Homo sapiens: one gene and its partner. The protein of the gene in region 1 purifies or fractionates together with the protein of each later gene. This does not show direct contact. Each region holds a gene or a part of one and is shown on either strand. Other genes may lie near its edges.

The links. Proteins that work in one complex are often made in the same cells at the same time.
Region 2: the proteins of KDM6B (region 1) and MAU2 purify together in Homo sapiens (affinity purification with mass spectrometry; 2 studies listed by BioGRID). This does not show direct contact.

The regions. Positions count from the first base shown.
Region 1 is NC_000017.11:7,830,090-7,837,240, reverse strand, and holds the start of KDM6B (lysine-specific demethylase 6B), read right to left. Parts: upstream 3,025-7,151; 5' UTR 2,891-3,024; intron 1,834-2,890; exon of another isoform or gene 1,625-1,833; coding exon of another isoform or gene 597-1,624; intron 1-596. Other genes in the region: translation initiation factor IF-2, read left to right, coding at 597-1,624; DNAH2 (dynein axonemal heavy chain 2), read right to left, coding at 3,708-3,862, 4,020-4,170, 4,313-4,387, 4,486-4,662, 5,466-5,580, 5,700-5,851, 5,927-6,155, 6,399-6,583 and 1 more. UniProt on the Homo sapiens protein: Histone demethylase that specifically demethylates 'Lys-27' of histone H3, thereby playing a central role in histone code. Demethylates trimethylated and dimethylated H3 'Lys-27'.
Region 2 is NC_000019.10:19,337,809-19,344,832, reverse strand, and holds part of MAU2 (MAU2 chromatid cohesion factor homolog), read right to left. Parts: intron 5,989-7,024; coding exon 5,894-5,988; intron 3,988-5,893; coding exon 3,960-3,987; intron 3,582-3,959; coding exon 3,426-3,581; intron 2,299-3,425; coding exon 2,152-2,298; intron 2,058-2,151; coding exon 1,967-2,057; intron 997-1,966; coding exon 893-996; intron 1-892. UniProt on the Homo sapiens protein: Plays an important role in the loading of the cohesin complex on to DNA. Forms a heterodimeric complex (also known as cohesin loading complex) with NIPBL/SCC2 which mediates the loading of the cohesin complex onto chromatin.

The sequences.
Region 1 (7,151 bases):
AATCTGGGGAAGGGGGCAATAGGACACTTGGCCATGCAGCAGGTGGGAAAGTAAAATGACGGCTAGGTAGCTTTTTCTATGGGGGCGGAGCCTTGGAGGGGAAGCTCTTCTGTGCCAATCTAGGGAAAAGTGACCCAAGGCTCCCTCAGCCCAGCAAAGGGGCAAAGTCTTTCAGCCACACCACACCCGTGCCCCTCCCCCTCACAAAACTCCAGGCCGGGGTTTCCCACCTGCAGGATGCTAAGACCACGGGAAGGGAGAGGGGAAAGAGATGGCACGGGACTGGAACTGGACTCGGGGCAGAGGTGGGAGGGAATAGAAGGGGGAGGAAGCCTCATTGCCTGGCAACCATCCCGGGGCACGTGCACTAGTGACATCATCCCAGGCCACCTCTAACACAGACCTTTGACCCCTACGGGGCGGAGTGGGTGTGCTGGCTAAGCTTCCTGGAAACACTGGAAACACCCTTAGGAATTCTGGGAACCCAAAAAGGAGACATAAGAAGAAACCCAGGCGTCCTTATCTCTTTTACCCCTAATACGACTCCAATCCCAGGGACTCAGGCCTCTTGCCTGTCTCCTCCTCTCCGCCTGCAGCCCTGACCTCCCAACCCACATTTCTGACGGGAGTCGGCCCGACACGCCCCTCGGAGATACTGTGCCTTCTCTCTCCTGGGCGAGATCTCGGTGGGGGCCGGCAGGCGGGGACGGGGGCACCGGGTCCCGCGGGGCTCCGTCTTCCATCTGCAGGATCCCCCGTGCCCCAGCCGGCCGCCAGCCGGAATCTGTCTGGGTCCCCAACTCTCCCGCCCCTCCCCGCGCTGTTCCAGGGCGGAGTCTGTGGAGTTGAAACCAGGACACGGCGAGAGGAAGAGTTATATAACCGGGAGAAGCGAAGAAGGACGAGTGGAGACAGGGACAGACAGCCCGAAAGGAGCCGAGGGAGGTGCAAAGAACGCCGGGGCGAACGAGGAGGAAACGTTAGGAATGGGAAGGGTTTTGGTGCACATCAAAGAGCAGGAATTCACGCGAAGAAGGGGCGTGATGGCCCAGAAGAATCACCTGGGCCGTCCGGGGCTTCCCCGCAGTGCCCTCCTCCGCCACCAACAGCAGCTGGGCCCGGGCGGGAGAAGCCTTGGGAAGGGGCGCTGGTACCCGCTCGCTTTCTCTTGGGAAAGCAACTTAAGCCAGAGCCCGGGAAGGCAGCGGCCGAGCAGATGGGGCCGGAAACCACAGCTCCGCCCAGCCCACCTGGGAGTGTGGGGCGCCAGCTGGGGGGAGGTGGGGAACAGGTAGTCGGCCCTCCCGAGCCAGGCTGGGCATTATGGTCGCGACCGGCGAAACGGTGCAGACCGACCGAGACGTGTGGGTCCCCAGGGGCTGAAGAGCGCAGCCTCAGGCGGCTTTACACAGACTCCACGAGGGGAGGGGGGCGCCCGGCTCGCCGCGCAGGCGCAAGGGGGTGCTCGGGCGCGTGCGGCGCAGGGCGGGGGGTGGGCGCGAGCGTGTGGGAGTGCACGTGCGGGTCCCAGGCAGCTGCTGCCTCCCAGCCTCCGCCGCTGCCCCTCCCCTCTCCCTTTCCTGTCGCTATCATCCCCCTTCCCCATTGGCTGCCAGGGCCCTGACGTCAGGGCCGACCGCTGGAGCGGATTGGGCGGACGGGAGAGTTCGGGAATCCGGCTCCCAAGTCTCGCCCTCCAGTTACTCTGGCAACAGGACAAGCAACCCAGGGGAGGGAAGGGGAGCCGAGGTCAACGCTGCGCCTCGGTCCCTAACCCCCTCCGGACAACCACCGAGTCCCCTTCGGTCGCGGCGCAGCTCGCTACCTCCCCGCCTTCCTCCCAGGGCTCTTCCTGTCCCGGGAACCAGGCGTCCTGCCCTCGGCCTTCCCCACAGTCTTCAGGCCCTCCGCTGTCTCTAACCCCCACCAGTGTCACAACATAAGCTGCAGCAAACAGGAAGCGAATCTACGTCGCTTAGCAACCACCCCGCGTGCCCCCCTCCCCACTATTTACCCCAGCCGGGAGAGGCGGAGATTGAGTCCCCAGCCCCCTCCCCGTCTTCTGCGCTGCGACCTCCTGCCCACAATTTCCTGTGAGGGGGCCCAGATCACAGGAAGTCAAGTGGGGGCCTCAGCCTACCTTTCCCTCGGACCGGGGCGGGGGGCTTCAGCTACTTTCACGGTCACATCCCCCACCTGCCCTGGGTGCGTCTCGCCCTCGCCATCTTGTGGCTACGTTGGGAAGGCTCCGCACCGAGAAGCCGTGCGGGGCGCGCTAGGGTTCGGGAACGGCGGAGTGGGAGAAGGACTAGGGATGAGGAGGCTAGCGGGGCGAGACGGAGTGAAAGGGAGGCGCAGGGGGGTGGTGGGAAGAAGGCGAAGGCTACCGCTGGGAAGCTCTCGGGGCCGCTGGTGGGAAGGTCAGGCTGAGGCTTCTACACCTCACCCGTGCAGAGAACTGGAGGGAGACTTAAAGTAGTCCTGGGACCGGGACACACCCAAGTCTGACCACATCTGACCTTACTGGGCCATGGCATTGACCTGTCTGCAAACTCTGCCCTTTAGTCCTGCCCTTCAGTAAGGACCGCCGCGCCCCGCCCCGCCCCGCCCTGGAGTCGGGAAGGGGAATCCCAGCCCAAGGGGAACGGGGAGTCCTTTCAGGCCCCTCTGGACATTTGGAACCTGAGACATCTGCCTCCCAGTTCTTCCTCCTTCCCCGCCGTTCTCTCTTCTAGGGGACCCATGACCTCCGCCCCAGTCTTCTTCCCAGTGCCCTTCCCAAGACCCAAACGTCCATCCCCAGCTCTACCCCTCCAGAGACTCAGGCGTCCTGCCCTGCTGCAAGGAGAGGGTTTCCCTCTTTACAGACGTCCTCGCGGCTCCCCGTTACCTGGTTCTGGGGGGGGTCCCAGGTGTTCAGGCTCCCCAAGGTATCCCAGGGGGTCGAGCGGCCCCCCCTTCTCCCAGGCCGGGGCTGGGGGGGCCGCTCCGCCCAGTGGCGCAGTTGGATTTTCCAACACAAACACCCGCACCCCCGCTCCCCAGCCCCGCCCCCTTGTGGTCCCGCCCCTCCTCGCGCTCTAGTCCCCCTCTCCGGCTCCGCCCCGTCTTCTGCCGGTCCCGCTCGCCTCAGGGCGGGTGCCGGCTAGGATGCCGGGTGCGGGGTGCGGGCTTCAGGGTGCGGGCCTCAGGGTGCAGTGTACGGGGTTCAGCCCTGATCCCTGCCTGACAAATCCCTACTCATTTGGATCACGCGCCCTTCTAAGGTAAGCCCCGCCCCACCCACTGAAGTCCTGCCCGGAGACTTAAGCCACAGCCTCTTCAGGCGGCTCCGCCCTGCCCATTCGTTCAGGGCCACGCCTCCGTTCCGCTCCAGGCCGCCCCACCTCCCTCGCTTCTTTCCCCGTCCAGTAGCAGCTCCGCAGTAGCTCTGTCCTCCGTGAGGCCTGGGCTTCCTCCCTCCCCAGACCCTCACCATTGCATTGAGAGACTTAAGGCTTGTTGTCGCGGGTGTTTTACAGCACTGAGCTCCAATACAACTCTTTCACTTTTATGGCTAACACAACTAGGTATCTCCAGGGCCACATCACACAAATTCGGCCAAGGTCAAAGTCTGAGTGAGGTCCGGCCTCAGTCCTAGGTGCAACATCTGTCTTAGCTCCTGGAGTCCCTGACCCTCTCTCTCAAGCGGAGAAGAGGAGGAGGTCTCAGCTGTCCAGGCTCATGAGTAGAGCAGTGCCCCTCTTGATCCAATGATCAGGTGTCATGGCCCCAGACCGCAGGTCAATGCCGATGACAAAGGAGGCTCGGTCTGAGCTGCCTGCCCGGTTGGGATAGTAATAGCAGGGGCAGGAGTACATGCCTGGGGGAAAGGAGAGGAGAAGTCAGACCCCTGGAGCCTCCGGGAGAGCAGGGCAGGAGCAGGGCAGGAGCGGGTGTGGGATGGGCTGGAGCAGAGAATGGGTTAAGTTCCAAACTAGGGACGGGGCAGGCAGGTCCTGCCTGGGGAGCTGTCCCACCCTTGGCGCTCTTCTTGCGGCTCTCTGCAGGCCGGAAGTGGATCGTGGGCATGAGGCAGACAAGCTGCATGGGCTCTGCCTCCACCAAGCAGGAGTTCTTCCGGTCCCAGCCAGCACCTTCCAGGTACAGGCCCCGGACCCAGACACCATCCTGGGGAGAAATGGGAGCAGGTCTGGGAGAAGCTAGACTTCAATTGCCAGCGCCCCTGACCTGCTCCCTCTCTCCTCCCTTTTCGTCCAATTATTTCCAGTACCCTCTTTTGCTCAGAGCCCCAAGCACAACTGGCTCCCACCTTGGGGGGATACACTAGGTTGCTGTCATCCACAGTGGAAACGATAAACTCCCAGGAGAGGCTGTCCACTGAAACCTGGGGGTTGAAGGTGAGAATAAGAGAGGACCCTGAAGAGGAGAACACATACATGGCCCCAGCATACATCCCCCCCTCACACTTTGCACATTGCTCACGTTGTTTTGGCGAGCTGAAGACTGCAGCACAGCAGTGAGGAAGCCAGTGGGAAAGGTGAAACCAGACAACCAGAAGATCACAGGAGGCCGGGCCCGGCTGGCCCACAGCTCAAACTGCTCCACACGCATGGCCAAGTCCCGGGTCCAGGCAGCCAATGGCTTTTGTGAGGGGTATGCCTGGGGAAGGAGTGCGTGTGTATTCACTCATTTAGCCGTGCATTCAAATCCGTATTATTTATTTATTTAGAGACAGAGTTTTGCTCTTGTCCCCCAGGCTGGAGTGCAGTGGTACGATCTTGGCTCACTGCAACCTCCACCTCCCAAGTTAAGCTATTCTCCTGCCTCAGCCTCCCAAGTAGCTGGGATTACAGGCGCCCACCATCACGCCCGGCTAATTTTTGTATTTTTTTAGTAGAGACGGGGTTTCACCATGTTGACCAGGCTGGTCTCAAACTCCTAAACTCAGGTGATCTGCCCGCCTCAGCCTCCCAAAGTGCTGAGATTGCAGGCATGAGCCACCGCGTCCAGCCCAAATCCTTATTTTGAGCACCTGAAGCAGATATGAGAAGACTATGTGGTGGCAGCCCCTGTTCCCCAACTACAGGTGAACAAAGCTCTCCAAAGCCAACTTCTAGGAAAGAGGCATACAACGACAGCTATTCATTCATAACAATGACCGCAGTAATATTAACCAGGTAGCATTGATGAAGCACCTACTGAGTGGTAGGCACAATACTGGGAATCTCTGAAACATCCTTGGAGAGGTTAGTAATTTTCCCTGAGTGAGTCTGTAAGTTAATAAGTTGTATGAAGTCAGTCAATGAATGGCAGAGCCAGGTTTTAACCTTGAACCTATCTAACTTCAAAGTTTCGGCTCTCTGCAGTTTGCTTTATGCCCACCTAGAACCAGGAGATTGGGGGGCCCAGGATTGAGAGGGGAGCTCATTGTTGGAGAAGGATCAACAATGGTATAATCTTGCCTTTCCCCAGAGCGGAGGAACATGGGCATCAAAGATGCAATTGAAAATCTCTTCCAGGCTTGTAGACATGACGATGAGACCCTGGATGCCTTTCTCTAGGTCTGTCAGTGAGAACCTGAGCAGGATGAGGTGGAGTGTTAGAGATGAGGTGGGCCTGGGAACGTCATTCTAGCCAGAAGGCAAAGGCTTCTCCTCACACCCTCCCCTGTTCCGCAGAGTCCCCCTCTGTCTTACAGGATGGTCTGCATCAGTGTGTTGTATCTCTGGATCTCCTGCAGAAGGACCACATTGAGGGGGGAGGGGTCGAGAGCTAGCAGTTTTTGAGTCCCCTCATAGTCGATCATTTCAGGGATCTTCTGCTTCACATCAGCGGCCAACTCAAGGACCTGAGCAGGCAGGAGCTCTTGAGTGTAGCCCCCTCTTCTCATCACTTTCCCTCCCCCAGGCCCGGCTCTTTTTACCTTCTCTTCCCGGGTCTGGCCTCCAGCCCTGGTGGGTGTAATCTGAGGTTGCAAGGAAAGCAAAGTATCAAAGAGGGTTTGTGCCTCAGTGATCTGAGAGGCCACATCAGCATTGGGGTGCTGGCCAAAGGCCTCAGGGGGGTCCATGCCAGGCAATAAGCTGATGTATTCCTTGTAAGAAGCGAGGCTGCCATCCTTGGGGATGAAATAAGTCTCCAGTGCTGACAACCTAGGGAGTCATAGCATAATTACTGCCACATTGTGGGGACTCAGCCCTCAATGCCAGGCCAAGACCCCAAACCTATGCATGTCCAATTTGTCCAGCTCCCTGCCCTGCTCCCCATCTCAATCCCACAAACTCTGTCTTCTTCCAATCTCACGTCCTCTCCTCAAACATTACCCCCACCCCTGATCCCACCACCTGGCTGACTTGTGACCTCTGGCTCCCTGTCCAGGGCCACCTCCCCCTCACCGGTGGAAGGGAGTTGATAGAGACTGGTCACAGAAATAATCATTGATGTAGGTGGTCAGCAGGCGCCGGTCCCAGTCATCTGTGACATGTCCACCATAGTTGATGCCGGCAATGAGGTACTTAAGTGCGTCCCAAGGTGTCTCCTCGTACTCATCGAGATAGAGGCTCAGCAAGTTTTCTGACACCTAGGCATGATCCCAGCCCAAGCCCCCATTCCCAGAGTTATGGCAGGAAATCTGCCAATGGGGCTTCAACACAGGCTTTGTGTCCACGGATATTCCCACAGGGGAGCCATGGGGTAGGACGTGTAAGGAGAGAGGGCTGGGATGAGGACCCCTGGCTAATGCAAACCTCAAAGTCGGAGTCATTGAAGCCATAGATGATGTTCCAGCCAAGCTGCAGGAACTTTTTGCGTTCAAGTAACACAGAGTGGAAGAAACAGAGTGAAAACAGCAGCTTCTTATATTTGGCAGGTTTGGAGCAGCGGGAAAACTGTGGTTCTGACATCAGTTGGTAAAGACGTGTCATGTTGGCCTTTAGGCCCTGGGGACAATGAAATATAAAGATGGGGTGACATGCATCACACTCAGACCTGCCACTAGCACTGCCATGTACAGTTGTGGAGGTTCTTCATTGCACAAAGGCACTGGCTGAAAGGGTGAGTGGAGGCTGAAATGTAGCCGTTGATCTACATGCCAAGATCTACATTCTTCCACAAGGCTGAGTGCCTTTCTCTAATTCACAGATAGGCAT
Region 2 (7,024 bases), on another chromosome or scaffold:
TACTGCCATCACAGGACTGCAACCTGGGACCTGGCGTCTGAGCAGCAATGGAGAGACCCCATAGCTGGTGGGTGAGCCCATGTCCTGTCTGACCAAACTGGGGTACAAAGCCCCAGCAGACACGTCCACCATGAGGGCAAAGGGCAGCCCAGATCCCATCGTGGACAGGGACCCTTGTCTGTTACTCGTCTCTTCCACTCTGTCCAACAGGTGTCTGGGTTGTAAAGGACCTCCAGCCTACTGAGGGCCCCCATGCCCTCTCAGGAGGGTGGGTACTGGGGGTAGAGTGTTCCTAATGGCAGGGTGGGGTATAACAATCACTGTCAAAGGACCCCCCAAATCCCCAGAGACCATGTGCGCTATCCCCTTGGTGTGCAAGCTTTTGGGCCATGGCCCATTAGTTTTTTGGGTTTTTTTTTTTGAGATGGAGTCTCACTCTGTTGCCCAGGTTGGAGTGCAGTAGTGCGATCTCGGCTCACTGCAACCTCTGCCTCCTGGGTTCAGGCTATTCTCCTGCCTCAGCCTCTCAAGTAACTGGGATTACAGGTGTCTGCCACCACACCTGGCTAATTTTTATATTTTTAGTAGAGGCGGGGTTTCGCCATGTTGGCCAGGCTGGTCTCAAACTCCTGGCCTCAAGTGATCCACCCGCCTCGGCCTCCCAAACTGCTGGGATGACAGGCGTGAGCCACTGCGCCCGGCCTCCACTGGTTTTTGTATGAGATTCTCTGATCAGTGGTGCCCATGCAGGGCTGTAAAACGCTGGCCGACAGCGAGACAGCAGGATGGGCTGGCCTGCCAGTATGCACTTGGCGAATTCAGTCTCTTGTCTGACACTGCTGAGACCCAACAAACTCCTGGGCCTTCCCGCCCCTCCTGCTTCCAGCCTTACCTCCTGCAGCGCCGTGGCCTTGTGACCCGTGACAAGGCGGCACATGATGATGTGCTCCAGCAGGATCACTTGGAAGGATGACAGGATGGGGCTGCAGTCCAGCACTATGGGTGAGAGTCAGGGGTAAGCATGCAGGGGAGGCCAGAGGAGGCGCCACCCCCAGCCCACCGTGCCCCCACCTCGTTCCTGTCTCCTGCCACACTGGCTAGGCACCCACCCCGTCATCTCCCCTAGTCCCCACTGCACCCTCTGAGTGAAGGAGTGTGTCTTGCTGTCCAGGTGGGGAGACGGAGCTGGAGCCAGAGGTTGGTTCCCACAGTGCTCCAAGAAGGGTTGGCTCTCACCCTCACCCTCACCCTACGTGCTCAAGAGCTTGTGGACATGGCAGGTTCTAGAAATGTAGAAATGTGGAAACCACCCTGGATCATGACACCATGCAGCAGAGCCTCAGGCAGTCGGGTAGGGGGACCTGGGCTGGGCCCCACCTCCCAACAGCCCCAAGCAACCATCCTCATATGGGAATAAGAGAAGCACAGGGCCTATCCGGCTTTGGGCTGCCTTGGCTCTGATGCCTTCTCCCCCAGCAGCACTCACGAGGGAGCAAACAGACCGACTAATGGGCACACTATACCAGCCAGGGACGTCTGCTCTGGGTTTGTGCTAGTCAAAGGTCCCTGGATGGATTAGACACTTGAGCATCTGGAAAGAACTCACGACCTCCAAAGGACATGCTGGTGGTCAGTGAGGGCTGAGTTCTGATCCTGGCCTCATCCCGAGTGTCCCTGTCACAACACTGATAATAATTGGGAAAAGCAGCTACCACCTGTTTCAACTGAGCATGACTGGGCACAAGGGACCTGACCAGTCAGGGAGGTACCCCCGACCCCAGGCCTGTCTGCTCTGCTCTGACGTTGGACACCAGCATTTATCAACTAGGGGTGACGAGACCCACCAGGCAGGGTGGCTGGGCGCTGCGGTCACACAGGGTCACTGGGCCCTGGTACAGCTAGCGTCTGGCCAGGCCGTCCGCCAGGGGTCGCTGTGGCCATGTGGCCAGCCGAGCACCTGACTTACTCTTGAGCTTCTCCAGCTGCATGAGGGCCTTGTCCGTGTACTTCTGCGCCTTCTCCAGGTAGCCGGCCTGCATGGAGTGCATCACAGTCACCTAGCGACAAGACCAGACAGCAGGGGTTACCAGGGCCCTCTCCCTCTCCCTGCCCCCGCCCCCAGCCCTGGCCCGGGCCCTGGTGGGGACGCACCAGGTAGACAAGCACACACATGTGCTCCTTGGGCAGCCAGTGGAAGAGGTCAGCGGGGTTGCTGGGCAGGATCTCATCATCGTGCAGTGTGGAGATGGTCTGGATGCACTGCTGCAGCTGCTTCAGACACGGCTTCACGCTCTTCACCTGTGCAGCACCCACACCCGAGCATCCACCTGAGCCTGGCCTCTCAGGAAGCCAGGCCCAGCCCAGCCACCCCTGCTCCTTCCTCTAGGGAGCATCTGCCTTCCCCTTCTGCCAGGGCCACCTCCTGCAAGATGAAGCCGCCCCTGCCGCACTCCCATGAATCAGCCAGGCTTTTGGGGCATGGGGCACAGCCAGGCGGGCAGCTGTGGGACTGAGGCTTGTCCACTGCCCAGTGTTGGGTCCAACACCAAGGCCCAGGAGAGGCCTATCCAGACCCTGCTGGAGCTGCACTTGGTCTTCACGCAGCCAGACCTGAGACGGCAGGGGGAGGCTGTGCTCTGAGGGGGTGGGAGGTGGCTTCCTGGCCCAGGAATCAGGCAGGCGCTGTGGTCCATCTCGCCCTGAGGCCCCGAGGGATGTCTCTGCAGCCCTTGCACCCTGAGGGAAGCGTGGCTGCAGTCTGCTCTGTGTCCCTATGCGCCGAGTGCAGTGCTTCACCCAATGGGCAACGATGGGTATGGATGGACGAACTGGGCAACCCCCTTACCAAGCCCTGTGGAGACTCGCCTGTGGCCCACTGCGACAGGGGTGGGTCTGAGTGGCACAGGGCAGCCCCCAGCCCCCGAAGGGCTGAGACTGTCACACAAGCACAGAGACAAGGAGCTCAAACACAGCCGCTCCCCACCCACGGCAGGGTCATGAGTCCAGTCTCGGACATGGCTGAGCACATCAGTCCCTACTCAACCCCACAGCCGGGGGCCAGACAGACAGCACCTGGGCATCTGCTGTGTGCAGGTGCCATCCCAGCACCTCTGTGGTTTATTCTCATGATTCCCTGAACTGCCATTGGAATCTCTGAGCATCCATACACTGAGCGAGTGTATGCAATGTCACACATAGTACTCCCAAAGGGAGGTGGGGTGGCCAGGACAGACCCTGTTCCCAGATACCAGCACTCGTGGCAGAGCAGGACAGGAGTGTGTGTGTCCGGGACTGGTATGACAGCCCTGTTGTGTGGCAAGGTAAGGCGATGACACAGCTGACCTCACAGCCCAAGACCCATTGGCCTGGGTACCACCCATACCCACTGGTCACAACCAGCAGCTCGCCTGAGAGGCGCCACACACCTGCCCGGCATCCAGATAGTGGGTGACCTGGAGCACCAGGAAGAAGACACGCAGCGACTCCTTCTGGATGGGGTTCCCCTGCCAGTTCTCCACGATCTGCCCGCAGAGGGTCAGCAGCGGGTGCACCTCCTGCAGCTTTCGCTCCATCAGCAGCAGCTGGGGAGGGAGAGGCGCAGGTGTAGGGTACAGGGCTTGCAGGGGCCCTCCCAGGACCGGGAGCACAGGGTCACCTGCCCACCTGCCCTGGGACTGCTGCCACCAATCCAGAGGGCAAGGCCAGCCTGAAACCCCAGCCCAGGCAGCTCCTAACCAGGCTCTTGCCTCAGCATGAATCCCATAGGGTGCAGCCTGAGTTTCCCTCCTGAACCCAGCAGGGCCCGGGCCTCACATTCCAGGCTGCTCACTGTGCCTAAGGGTCTGGGCGCCTAAGGGGCCATGCCATGGAGAGTGGGTGGGGTCTGAGCAGACTCTGTGGGGGCCCTGCCTCACCTCCACAACACCAGCTGCATCCAGCCATGCCCAGCCTCAACTTACCATCCCCTTGCTGAGGAGGAACAGCGCCCTGCAAAACAAGAGGCAGGGGTCAGGTCCTAGCAGGCCCAGGAGCCTCCTGGGATGACTGTGATTACCCCAAGGCTCACAGGACCTAATATGCCACCTCAGGGGACAGTTCAGTGGACAACAGAGAACAGTCCCCTTACAAGACTGCTCTGTTTTATCCTATTGTGTCTGTGTTTATTTTTATTTTTATTTATTTATTTATTTTTTTGAGACGGAGTCTCGCTCTGTCGCCCAGGCTGGAGTGCAGTGGTGCGGTCTCAGCTCACTGCAAGCTCAGCCTCCCAGGTTCACGCCATTCTCCTGCCTCAGCCTCCTGAGTAGCTGGGACTACAGGCGCCCGCCACCACGCCCGGCTAATTTTTTGTATTTTTAGTAGAGACAGAATTTCACCGTGTTAGCCAGGATGGTCTCGATCTCCTGACCTCGTGATCCACCCGCCTCGGCCTCCCAAAGTGCTGGGATTACAGGTGTGAGCCACCGCGCCCGGCCTGTTTTTATTTTTTTTATTATTTTTTTCTTAGAGTCTCACTCTGTTGCCCAGGCTGGAGTGCAATGGTGTGATCTCGATTCACTGCAACCTATGCTTCCCGGGTTCAAGCGATTCTCCTGCCTCAGCCTCCTGAGCACCTGGGACTACAGGCACCTGGCACCATGCCTGGTTAATTTTTTTTTTTTTTTTTTTGAGATGGAGTCTCGCTCTGTCGCCCAGGCTGGAGTGCAGTGGCGCGATCTCAGCTCACTGCAACCTCCGCGTCCTGGGTTCATGCCATTCTCCCGCCTCAGCCTCCTGAGTAGCTGGGACTACAGGCGCCCGCCACCATGCCCAGCTAATTTTTTGTATTTTTAGTAGAGACGGGGTTTCACCATTCACAGGATGGTCTTGATCTCCTGACCTCGTGATCTGCCCACCTTGGCCTCCCAAAGTGCTGGGATTACAGGTGTGAGCCACTGCGCCCGGCCATGCCTGGCTAATTTTTATATTTTTAGTAGAGACGGGGTTTCACCATGTTGGCCAGGCTGGTCTCAAACTCCTGACCTCATGTGATCCACCTGCCTCGGCCTCCCAAAGTGCTGGGATTTCAGGTGTCAGCCACTGTGCCTGGCCTGTATTTATTTTTCTTACATGGCTTAGACGCACTCACGTGAAAAGCCCAGAAGGCGGTTGGGTGCAATGGCTCATGCCTATAATCCCAGCACTTTGGGAGACCAAGGTGGGCAGATCACTTGAGGTCAGAAGTTTGAGACCAGCCTAGGCAACATGGTGAGACCCTATCTCTACAAAAAAAAAACAACAAAAAAAAACGCGGCGGTGGACACACAGCGTTGGGGCCAGTGGGCAGGCTTGGGTGCCTGAACTCAGGCTCAAACCCGCGCCTCATGGTGACTAATTTTTTTTTTTTTGAGACGGAGTCTCGCTCTGTCGCCAGGCTGGAGTACAGTGGCATGATCTTGGCTCACTGCAACCTCTGCCTCCCGGGTTCAAGCTAGTCTCCTGCCTCAGCCTCCCGAGTACCTGGGATTACAGGTACCCACCACCACGCCCAGCTAATTTTTGTATTTTTAGTAGAAACAGGTTTCACCATGTTGGCCAGGGTGGGCTCAATCTCTTGACCTCGTGATCCTCCCACGTTAGCCTCTCAAAGTGCTGGGATTACAGGCGTAAGCCACTGTGCCCGGACCCAATTTTTGTATTTTTTGTGGAGATGGGGTTTCACTATGTTCCCCAGGCTGGTCTTGAACTCCTGGGCTCAAGTGATCCTCCTACCTTGGCCTTCCAAAGTGCTGGGAATATACTGTGAGCTACTGTACTTCACCTGAAATGCCATTTCTGTTATTTGTCCTGGACCAAGATGGCCAAGCCCCTCCTGTTAACAGAGCAGGAGGGAAGGAGGGGAGTGGGTGCCTACCGTGTGTATTCAGATCCCACCACCCGGGCGTACTCGGCCCCTACACCCAGGAGGTCACAGGCCGACACCAGGTCCTTCTCAAGCGTGTGCAGTTGCTAAAAAGGAAAGAGAGCAGTGACCTTTGCTGCCAAACCCATCAGTTTTACGGTACCTGCCTTCGTGCTCTGTTAGCAAACTCAACCAAACCTCCCCACGTCAGTGAAACTGCCTGTGTCAGTTTTGAGCTAAATTAACCAAATTATCTTATCAACGCTAATTGCTTTGGGTACACAGCTCCAGTTGGCCTGTAGTATATATGTCATCTAAACTGAATGGTGCCTGCAGTGGACACTATCTAAACTTAATGGAGCATAGAACCAGCAGCCAAGGCTCACGGCACAGACCCCCAAGGCTGTGTGAGCACCTAAGGCTGTTCTGAGTGCTTTGTGGGGTCTGTCTTCAGTGGGGTGTCCCTAGTGTGTTCCAGGGCCGACAAGGAGGGACTCCCTCAGAGGCAAGTGTCAAAGTCTGAACAGGCTGAAAGGGAGGCACATGCCTGGCTTGACCCTGCAAGGCAATACCTATGGGGCTGTGGTGAAGAGCTCGGCCCTTGGGTGTGCGTGCACATGGTGCCTGCCAACTCTGTGGCCCAGGGGAGGTGACTCACGGCCTGGCCTGCTCCTTTGTCTGCTAATGGGCACAAGAGTGCGTGGGGAGATGGAAGGACACAGCATGTGTATGCAGCTTCTCATCAGGCCTGGGGGAGGAGGGCCTCGGGAACTCCTGGCTGCTGGGGGAGCTCTTCCCTGTGCGTACTTTTCTCAGCCAGACCCTCCTGGGGTGAGGGACTCAGCTGGAGGAACTCCCAACCCAGGGTCCACATACTGCATAGGTGTCATGGGAGGTGGCTAAGTGGTGGCCCGGAAGGCAGGCTGGGTCATGGAAGAGAGAGGCCGGGGGCCGGCCACCCGCCTGAGGGTCCCCAGTGCAGAAGTATGGGTGGAGCCCAGGACAGGAGAGGTGCCCCACGTGGTGGAGCCTGCCGGCCCCTCCACTGCAGCCGGGAAGGCCGAGTTCAGAGTCCCCCAACAACCGAGCACTGTGGAGCTCAGAGACCAGGGCTTCACCTATATCTGGGGGGGCCAAAGGGAG